2 linked regions of the Homo sapiens genome follow. The protein of the gene in region 1 interacts with the protein of each later gene in a pairwise test. Each region holds a gene or a part of one and is shown in the gene's direction. Other genes may lie near its edges.

What was found.
Region 2: the proteins of NUP214 (region 1) and NUP88 interact in binary tests that used the Homo sapiens proteins (3 or more experiments, as listed by UniProt).

The regions. Positions count from the first base shown.
Region 1 is NC_000009.12:131,194,100-131,199,518, forward strand, and holds part of NUP214 (nuclear pore complex protein Nup214), read left to right. Parts: intron 1-1,133; coding exon 1,134-1,195; intron 1,196-3,116; coding exon 3,117-4,916; intron 4,917-5,419. UniProt on the Homo sapiens protein: Part of the nuclear pore complex. Has a critical role in nucleocytoplasmic transport.
Region 2 is NC_000017.11:5,391,817-5,395,714, reverse strand, and holds part of NUP88 (nuclear pore complex protein Nup88), read left to right. Parts: intron 1-733; coding exon 734-824; intron 825-3,898. UniProt on the Homo sapiens protein: Component of nuclear pore complex.

The DNA.
Region 1 (5,419 bases):
TTAGTATATTTGATGTGCTTGGTTCGTTATATTTTAAAGCTAGTTTGAAATCTGCAATTTGAACTTTGCGTGTGTGTGTGTGTGAGATAGAGCAAGATTCTGTCTCAAAAAAAAAAAAAGGTGCAGTGGTACAGTCATGGCTCACTACAACCTCCACCCCCAGGACTGAAGTGATCCTCCTGCCTTAGCCCCCCGAATAACTGGGACTACAGGTGCGCGCCACCACACCTGGCTGATTTTTGTTTTTTAATTTTTCGGTTTTGGTTTTTGGGGGTTTTTGTTTTTGTTTGTTTGGTTTTTGGGTTTTTGTTTTTGTTTTGTAGAAACAGGGTTCCACCATGTTGCCTAGGCTGGTCTCAAACTCCTGGGCTCAAAGGATTAACCTGCCTCAGCCTCTCAAAATGCTGGGATGTGAGCCACCATGCCTGGCCTGAGTTTTTATCACAGTGAATAATCTGTTCTGATTCACACTCGCGTGGGATTTTCTTCCTTAGCTATGGTGTCTTCACTTACAGTGTAAAGAAAACGTACAAAAGGAGAGAGGAGATGGTGAAAGGAGTCACAAAGTTTTTGAACTAGATTTTCCTAGCCGTAAAACTCAGTTCTGTCAAAATGACTGAGTTAGGGCTTCTATTTCATTGTATCCATTGTTTTCCCTAGCAGTGTGGGGCTCTCTGACATGCTTGTTGGTCTTGGAGGGGTTCTGAGAGGCTCTCCCTAGTCTTAAGTGCTTCTGTCTTACCAGACCTTCCTTCTGTCCCCTCACTTAACAGACCATCTGCTCCGGCCACCATTCCCACATGCACATTTGTCATGTGTCTCTACTGCTGCAGCTTTGCTCATCTTGCAAGAAGTCCCCACTCAAACTTCTGCTACAGAAAGCCCAGCCATCCCCCAATGGGCTCTCAACTGCTATCCCTGTCGTATCTCACACACAAACTGCTTCTCTGCTTAGAGATCATAGAGTGGCCTTACTGCTTCTGAGATAGGTGCTTTGACTCTGTTGTCATTTATCTTCTAGATTGTAAATTCCTGAGGGCGGTTTGTATGAATGAATGATAAAATGGAATATTAAGAGGGCAATATTGTGCCTTGGTTTGTTCCTTTTTAATTTCTCTTTTTCCACTTGTTAGGACTGGCTTTAATTTTGGGATAATCACACCAACACCGTCTTCTAATTTCACTGCTGCACAAGGTACAGACTCTGTGTTGAGTAGCATTACTCATGTGTTTTCTCTAAATAAGTACAGGTTATTTTTGCCCACATGTTAGTATTTGACTTGTTCCTGAATCTTACTTACAGTATCTGCAATAAGCTCAGTGTTGATAATGTGCATTAGAAATATGCTTAATTTAAGAAACTGATGTGAAGGATTTCTATTTTTATAATTAAGGACAAGGAAAGGATTTGCTTCTAGAAAATCAGGGCTGTGCTTTAACATTTAAATGTTAACATGTGAATTAAAATTTCTCCATTTTTTGTCTGTAATTTAAAATTTCTTCAATTTATAGGGTGATTCTGTAGGGCAAGATAGACATGGTAATAGATAGACTGTAGAAATGAAAGACCAAACTCGTTTTTTTCCTTGATAACATACCAGCAAACACACTCATCCCATGCATGTTGTTAAAAATCCATCAATAGACTGGGCGCGGTGGCTCACGCCTATAATCCCAGCACTTTGGGAGGCCGAGGCAGGCGGATCACCTGAGGTCAGGAGTTCAAGACCAGCCTGACCAACATGGAGAAACCCCGTGTCTACTAAAAATACAAAATTAGCCAGCCGTGGTGGCGCATACCTATAATCCCAGCTACTCAGGAGGCTGAGGCAGGAGAATTGCTTGAACCTGGGAGGCAAGGTTGCAGTGAGCCAAGATTGTGCCATTGCACTCCAGCCTGGGCAACAAGAGTGAAACTCTGTGTGTCCCCCCCCCCCCCCGCGCCAAAAAATCCATCAATAGCATGTTTTTAACATTTAAAAGAATTTGAAGCCCTATAAAGAAACCAGATCTATTTGTTAAGTGCCTTTCAGTTATCCGTTTATGATTAAGTCTTTTATTTTATTTATTTATTTTGAGATGGAGTCTCACTGTTGTCATCCAGGCTGGAGTGTAATGGCGCAATTGCAGTTCACTGCAACCCCCACCTGCTGGGTTCCAGCGATTCTCCTGCCTCAGCCTCCCTAGTAGCTGGGATTACAGGCGCCCACCACCACATCCAGCTAATTTTTGTATTTTTAGTAGAGACAGGGTTTCACCATGTTGATTGATCAGGCTGGTCTCGAACTCCTGACCTCGTGATCCACGTGCCTTGGCCTCCCAAAGTGCTGGGATTACAGGTGTGAGCCACCACGCCCGGCCTCGTTACTCTTGTATTTATTAACCACTGTTGTTTGACCAGGCCTTATGGGTGCTTTACCCATATTTCCTGCGATCTTTGTAACAGCACAATGAAGGTAGGTATTGTAATGATCTAGATTTTCCAAATGGGGGAATTGAGGCTCAGAGAGGTAAAGCAACCTTTCCAGATTCACACAACCAGCGAGTGGCAGAGTGCATAGCTCCAGAGCCCATGTCCTTGACCACCAGACCGTACTGCCTCTGTCAAATAGCTGACTTAGTAGAGCACTAATAAGTAGCCATTAATTGTACATAAAAATGATTTTCTGTGGACTGACACTTTATTTGCTCATAAAAATGAAGGAAGAACTTCCATTTTGAATCAAGTCCTGGTCTATCAGGAGGTCCACAGGCCATTGCTGTGCTGAGGATGTTATTAAGGAAAGCACACAGCTAGGGTAAATTAAGGGAAGAGGCTTTTTTATTTCTCTTTGGGATAATATGTTAATTTCACATATTCTAGATATTTTGTATTTGTTGTGATTTAATGGTCATAAAAAAAGTATTTTTTCCTTTTCACCTCAGACGACTCAGAGCTGATGTTTGTGTGGAGAAGCACTCATTCCACCTCCTTAGAGAAAGCTGCTGTGAGAACAAGGCACCCTGACTCTGTAGAGGGAGGAGAGAAACTTTGGCTTAGAAACACAATCAGTGGAAATGTAATGGGTCATCTTTTGCTAAATCCAACCCATTTTCTGATTTCTTTTTCTTGCTAGGGGCAACACCCTCCACTAAAGAGTCAAGCCAGCCGGACGCATTCTCATCTGGTGGGGGAAGCAAACCTTCTTATGAGGCCATTCCTGAAAGCTCACCTCCCTCAGGAATCACATCCGCATCAAACACCACCCCAGGAGAACCTGCCGCATCTAGCAGCAGACCTGTGGCACCTTCTGGAACTGCTCTTTCCACCACCTCTAGTAAGCTGGAAACCCCACCGTCCAAGCTGGGAGAGCTTCTGTTTCCAAGTTCTTTGGCTGGAGAGACTCTGGGAAGTTTTTCAGGACTGCGGGTTGGCCAAGCAGATGATTCTACAAAACCAACCAATAAGGCTTCATCCACAAGCCTAACTAGTACCCAGCCAACCAAGACGTCAGGCGTGCCCTCAGGGTTTAATTTTACTGCCCCCCCGGTGTTAGGGAAGCACACGGAGCCCCCTGTGACATCCTCTGCAACCACCACCTCAGTAGCACCACCAGCAGCCACCAGCACTTCCTCAACTGCCGTTTTTGGCAGTCTGCCAGTCACCAGTGCAGGATCCTCTGGGGTCATCAGTTTTGGTGGGACATCTCTAAGTGCTGGCAAGACTAGTTTTTCATTTGGAAGCCAACAGACCAATAGCACAGTGCCCCCATCTGCCCCACCACCAACTACAGCTGCCACTCCCCTTCCAACATCATTCCCCACATTGTCATTTGGTAGCCTCCTGAGTTCAGCAACTACCCCCTCCCTGCCTATGTCCGCTGGCAGAAGCACAGAAGAGGCCACTTCATCAGCTTTGCCTGAGAAGCCAGGTGACAGTGAGGTCTCAGCATCAGCAGCCTCACTTCTAGAGGAGCAACAGTCAGCCCAGCTTCCCCAGGCTCCTCCGCAAACTTCTGACTCTGTTAAAAAAGAACCTGTTCTTGCCCAGCCTGCAGTCAGCAACTCTGGCACTGCAGCATCTAGTACTAGTCTTGTAGCACTTTCTGCAGAGGCTACCCCAGCCACCACGGGGGTCCCTGATGCCAGGACGGAGGCAGTACCACCTGCTTCCTCCTTTTCTGTGCCTGGGCAGACTGCTGTCACAGCAGCTGCTATCTCAAGTGCAGGCCCTGTGGCCGTCGAAACATCAAGTACCCCCATAGCCTCCAGCACCACGTCCATTGTTGCTCCCGGCCCATCTGCAGAGGCAGCAGCATTTGGTACCGTCACTTCTGGCTCATCCGTCTTTGCTCAGCCTCCTGCTGCCAGTTCTAGCTCAGCTTTCAACCAGCTCACCAACAACACAGCCACTGCCCCCTCTGCCACGCCCGTGTTTGGGCAAGTGGCAGCCAGCACCGCACCAAGTCTGTTTGGGCAGCAGACTGGTAGCACAGCCAGCACAGCAGCTGCCACACCACAGGTCAGCAGCTCAGGGTTTAGCAGCCCAGCTTTTGGTACCACAGCCCCAGGGGTCTTTGGACAGACAACCTTCGGGCAGGCCTCAGTCTTTGGGCAGTCGGCGAGCAGTGCTGCAAGTGTCTTTTCCTTCAGTCAGCCTGGGTTCAGTTCCGTGCCTGCCTTCGGTCAGCCTGCTTCCTCCACTCCCACATCCACCAGTGGAAGTGTCTTTGGTGCCGCCTCAAGTACCAGTAGCTCCAGTTCCTTCTCATTTGGACAGTCTTCTCCCAACACAGGAGGGGGGCTGTTTGGCCAAAGCAACGCTCCTGCTTTTGGGCAGAGTCCTGGCTTTGGACAGGGAGGCTCTGTCTTTGGTGGTACCTCAGCTGCCACCACAACAGCAGCAACCTCTGGGTTCAGCTTTTGCCAAGCTTCAGGTAAGAATTTGTGGAAGCTTTTTACTTGTTTCCCTCTCTGCTATTTGAAACATTAGCAACAGACCCCTATTACTTTTGTAATTAAAGGGGAGACTCAAAACCCAAAAATAATCTGTAGGTTAAAGAAGACAGCTTGGAGCACATGTGGTCTCAGGAACTTGTTTGGCCTAATTGGCTGGATCTGTTACAGCTTAATGCAGCTCCAGTTTTGCTTCTTAGCAAATTGTCCACTCTGCAAGCCACCAGAGTGTGTTTCATGGGGAAAAATCAAGCATCTTTAGTTGAGGTCCTGCCAAGTAATTTAATGAACAATAAATAGGAAATTTCAAATTTGGAAGGCACTGTAGAGATCATTATACCCAAAGCTGTCAAGCCTCAAGGAGACTGCTCTAATGTCAGGATAGTGCCAGTGGAACCAGCAGGAGAGTCCAAGTGTCATCATAGTCCACCGCCCTGCCAGTGTTTTCTGTCTCCTCTGACACCATCTTTCTTACTGTAATGGC
Region 2 (3,898 bases), on another chromosome or scaffold:
GAAACCCTGTCTACTACTAAAACCTGGGCGTGGTGGCGTCCACCTGTAGTCCCAGCTACTCAGGAGGCTGACGCAGGAGAATCACTTAAACCCAGAAGCCGGAGGTTGCATTGAGCAGAGATTGGGCCACTGCGCTCCAGCCTGGGCAACAGAGGGAGACTCCATCCAAAAAAAAATAAAGCTGTTATAAATTGAGTATCCCTACTCTGAAAAATTTGAAATCCAAAACTTTTCTTTTTTCCATCCTTGAACCTGAGTGAGCTACAAAAGTTTTTGAGTGCTGTCATGACAACAGAAATGCTCATTGGAGCATTTAGGATTTTAGATTTTCAGATAAGAGATGTTCAACTACTAAGTATAATGCACATATTCCAAAATCCAAAAAAAAAATGTGAAATCCAAAACACTTCTGATCCCAAGCATTTTGGATAAAGGATACTCAACCTTTATGAAAATAAAATCAGTGTGGGTAAGCAGCACCCTAGAAGAGAATGATTTCACTGTTCTTAGTGAAACATTTTTGCATTCAGAGACATTACGAAGGAAAATCCTACTTCTTGGGGCGGAAATCTAGACCCCCTGGGAAAGCGTATGCCTATGTCAGAAAAGCATAGTACTTGAGAAGCAATGTTTTCAGACAAGAACCTCACTGCATTTAACCCAATATCATTAGCATTTTAATTTGGAGACTTGTCTAAGCATCATTTCATTTATGTAATGTCTTCCATGGTAGATGAAGAAGATAAGGATAGTTTACAGGAACTCTCTACAGAACAGAAATGCTTTGTTGAACACATCCTTTGTACGAAGCCATTGCCCTGCAGGTAAGGACTCTCCCTCCCTTGTATATCAGAAAACAATTGTTCATTTCAGCAGTTCAGATACGTTTGTATCCGTTACACTCACATCCACAGTATTCACTGCTGAGTCATTTGAAAGTTGCAGACGTGATACTTCTCCCCTAAGAGTGTCCTGCTCATCAGAAGCTTTCTCCTCTCCAGGGCCACTCGACATACTGTTTCCTGACTGGAAGGTCCTTCCCCAGCCCCAGCCCCAGCCCCAGCTTGCTGTCTTCTCTTGGCTAACTCCTACCCTTCTTTCTGATCTTAATGTCACTTCTTCACAGAGAACACCCTTGACTCCCCAGTCTAACTTGGGGCTCTCCTATTCTCTTATCCATTGTAGCACATATTACACTATTTATATTTGCATTTTTTTAATGTCTGTCGCCACTACCGGAATGTATATGTTTCATGAGAGCAGAGACTGTGTCTGCCCTTCACTGCATTGCTGTGTTTATTTGATGTGGTTGCCCATGTCTCCTCTTTGAAACACATTCTCCTTGGCATCCTTGACGTCTGTCCCTCCAGGTTCTCCTTCAGTCCCGCCAGCAGCCCTTTTCTCAAGTTTCCTTCTTGGGCGGGTTCCTCTGCCTCTACTCACTGCTTATAAGTAATGCTCACAACTCTTTCCTTGGGTCTTCTCTATTCTTTCTAGGTCCTTTCCTGAGTAACTTCTGCCGTAATCATGGCTTCAGTGCTGACAGTTCCCGCATCCATATCGCCCTAGCCCAGACCACTCTGAACTCCAGATTCACATACCCAGCTGCCTACTGGGCTCCTCCACTTGGATATCCTATAGGAACATAAAACTCCAGATGTCCCCTTAACTCATCTTCTGTCTTTCCAAATCTGCTCTCTCTCCTGTGTCCCATTTTTCTGAAGGGTGCCATATCACCCCAGTTATCCCCAGTAGAAACCTGGAAGGTATTCTAGATACCTCCCTTTATTCTGTTCATCAATTACTAGATATCTCATAAGCACTCTGTTAGACATGGAGTATACACAGACATGAGACAAATAGCATACACTAAGAAATAGACATAATCTAGGTTTGGCAATACAGAGGACCACAGGGAAAACGCTTGGTGGGGAATGAGAAGGATAGCAAACTGTACCAGCTTGAAAAGTGAACAGTGAAACCAGGCACTGTGGCTTACGCCTATAATCCCAGCATTTTGGGAGATCGAGGTGGGTGGATCACACGGTCAGGAGTGCAAGACCAGCCTGGCCAAGATGGTGAAACCCCATCTCTGCTAAAAACTACAAAAATTAGCCAGGCATGGTGGCAGACACCTGCAATCCCAGCTACTCGGGAGGCTGAGGCAGGAGAATTGCTTGAACCCGGGCAGCACAGGTTGCAGTGAGCTGAGATCATGCCACTGCACTCCAGTCTGGGTGACAGAGTGAGACTCCATCTCAAAAAAAAAAAAAAAAAAAGAAAAGTGAACAAGGAAAATACATAATAAAATCCCATGTAGGCTGGGCATGGTGGCTTACACCTATAATCCCAGCACTTTGTCAGGTGAGGCAGGAGGATCACTTGAGGCCAGGAGTTTGAGACCAGCCTGGGCAACATAGTGAGACCCTTTACAAAAAAATTTAAAAATTAGCTAGGTGAGGCCAGGCGTGGTGGCTCACGCCTGTAATCCCAGCACTTTGGGAGGCTGAGGCAGGCGAATTACTAGGTCAGGAGTTCGAGACCAGCCTGGCCAACGTGGTGAAACCCCGTCTCTACTAAAATACAAAAAAAAAATTAGCTGGGTGTAGTGGCGGGCACCTGTAATCCCAGCTACTCAGGAGGCTGAGGCAGGAGAATCGTATGACCCTGGGAGGTGGAGGCTGCAGTGAGCCAAGATCATGTCACTGCACTCCAGCCTGGGCAACAGAGTGAGACTCCGTCTCAAACAAAAAAAAAAATTAGCCACTGTGGTAGCATGTACCTGTGGTCCCAGCTACTCAGGAGGCTGAGAAGGAAGGATTGTTTGAGCCCACGAGGTCAAGGCTGCAGTGAGTCGTGATCGCACTATTGCACTCCAGCCTCGGCAACAGAGTGAGACCCTATCTCAAAAAAACCCCAAAATCCCATTTATATCAATTTCAGAAACAGGTAAAATTAAACAGTCTTGCCTAGGAGTGAATACATAGATAGGAAAACTATAAAGCAAAGCAAAGACATGATATTATGAATGTCAGAGTAGCGGCTACTTCTCTGGGGAGTGAAAGGCTATGACCAGGGAAGGTCGCATGGGAACCCTGAGGCCCCCTGCAGTGTCCTGATTCTTGACCTGGATACTGGTTACATAGTGTATAGCCCAGTAGTGTGTAGATTTCACACTGATAATAAAAAGTTAAAGTTTACAACCTTCCAGATATCGTCTCCATGTCTTGTCCAAAAAGGTAAATGGGAGCTATGGAAGGGGAACTAGTGTTTTCAACTGCTGTTTAAAGACTGCTGGTTCTAAAGGGATGGCGAGAAAGAATAGGTTAAGGGGAACTGGACATTATATTGAAATGAGAGTATTTTAAATGGAAGAGACATGAGTTTGCAAGCTGAGGGGAAGTAGATAATAGGGAGATTTTGAAACGACACAGTTGATGGTACAATTTTCAGAAGGTGTGAGAGGAGGCGGCATCCACATTCGGGGGCAGATGTGTGTTGTAGGCATGCAGGTGGGATGGGCATGGGAGCCGCTAGGAGAGCATGTTGGCAGAATGACAGTTCCCATCTGAGGTCTCAGTTTCCAGTGTCTTCACTGAAGTGGGAAGGAAGACTGAGAGAGATACACGCTGTGCGTGCCAAGTGATTTCCTGTGACATTGACATTGGGCCTCATTGAGAGAGACTCGGTAGTTCTGTTCATTCAACAGTTTCTAAGCACTTAATTTGTTAGCACTGGGCTAGGCAAACAAAGATAGCTGGGGCTTATGTGCAAGTTGGAGAGATCTTCAGTGTAACGTGTAACTTTTGAGATTACAGTCAGCAGCACGCTACAGTTAGGGATTCCTGAGTGACTTAGTCACATGGGCTCTAGACTTTAGTGTGGAGCTGCATTAAAG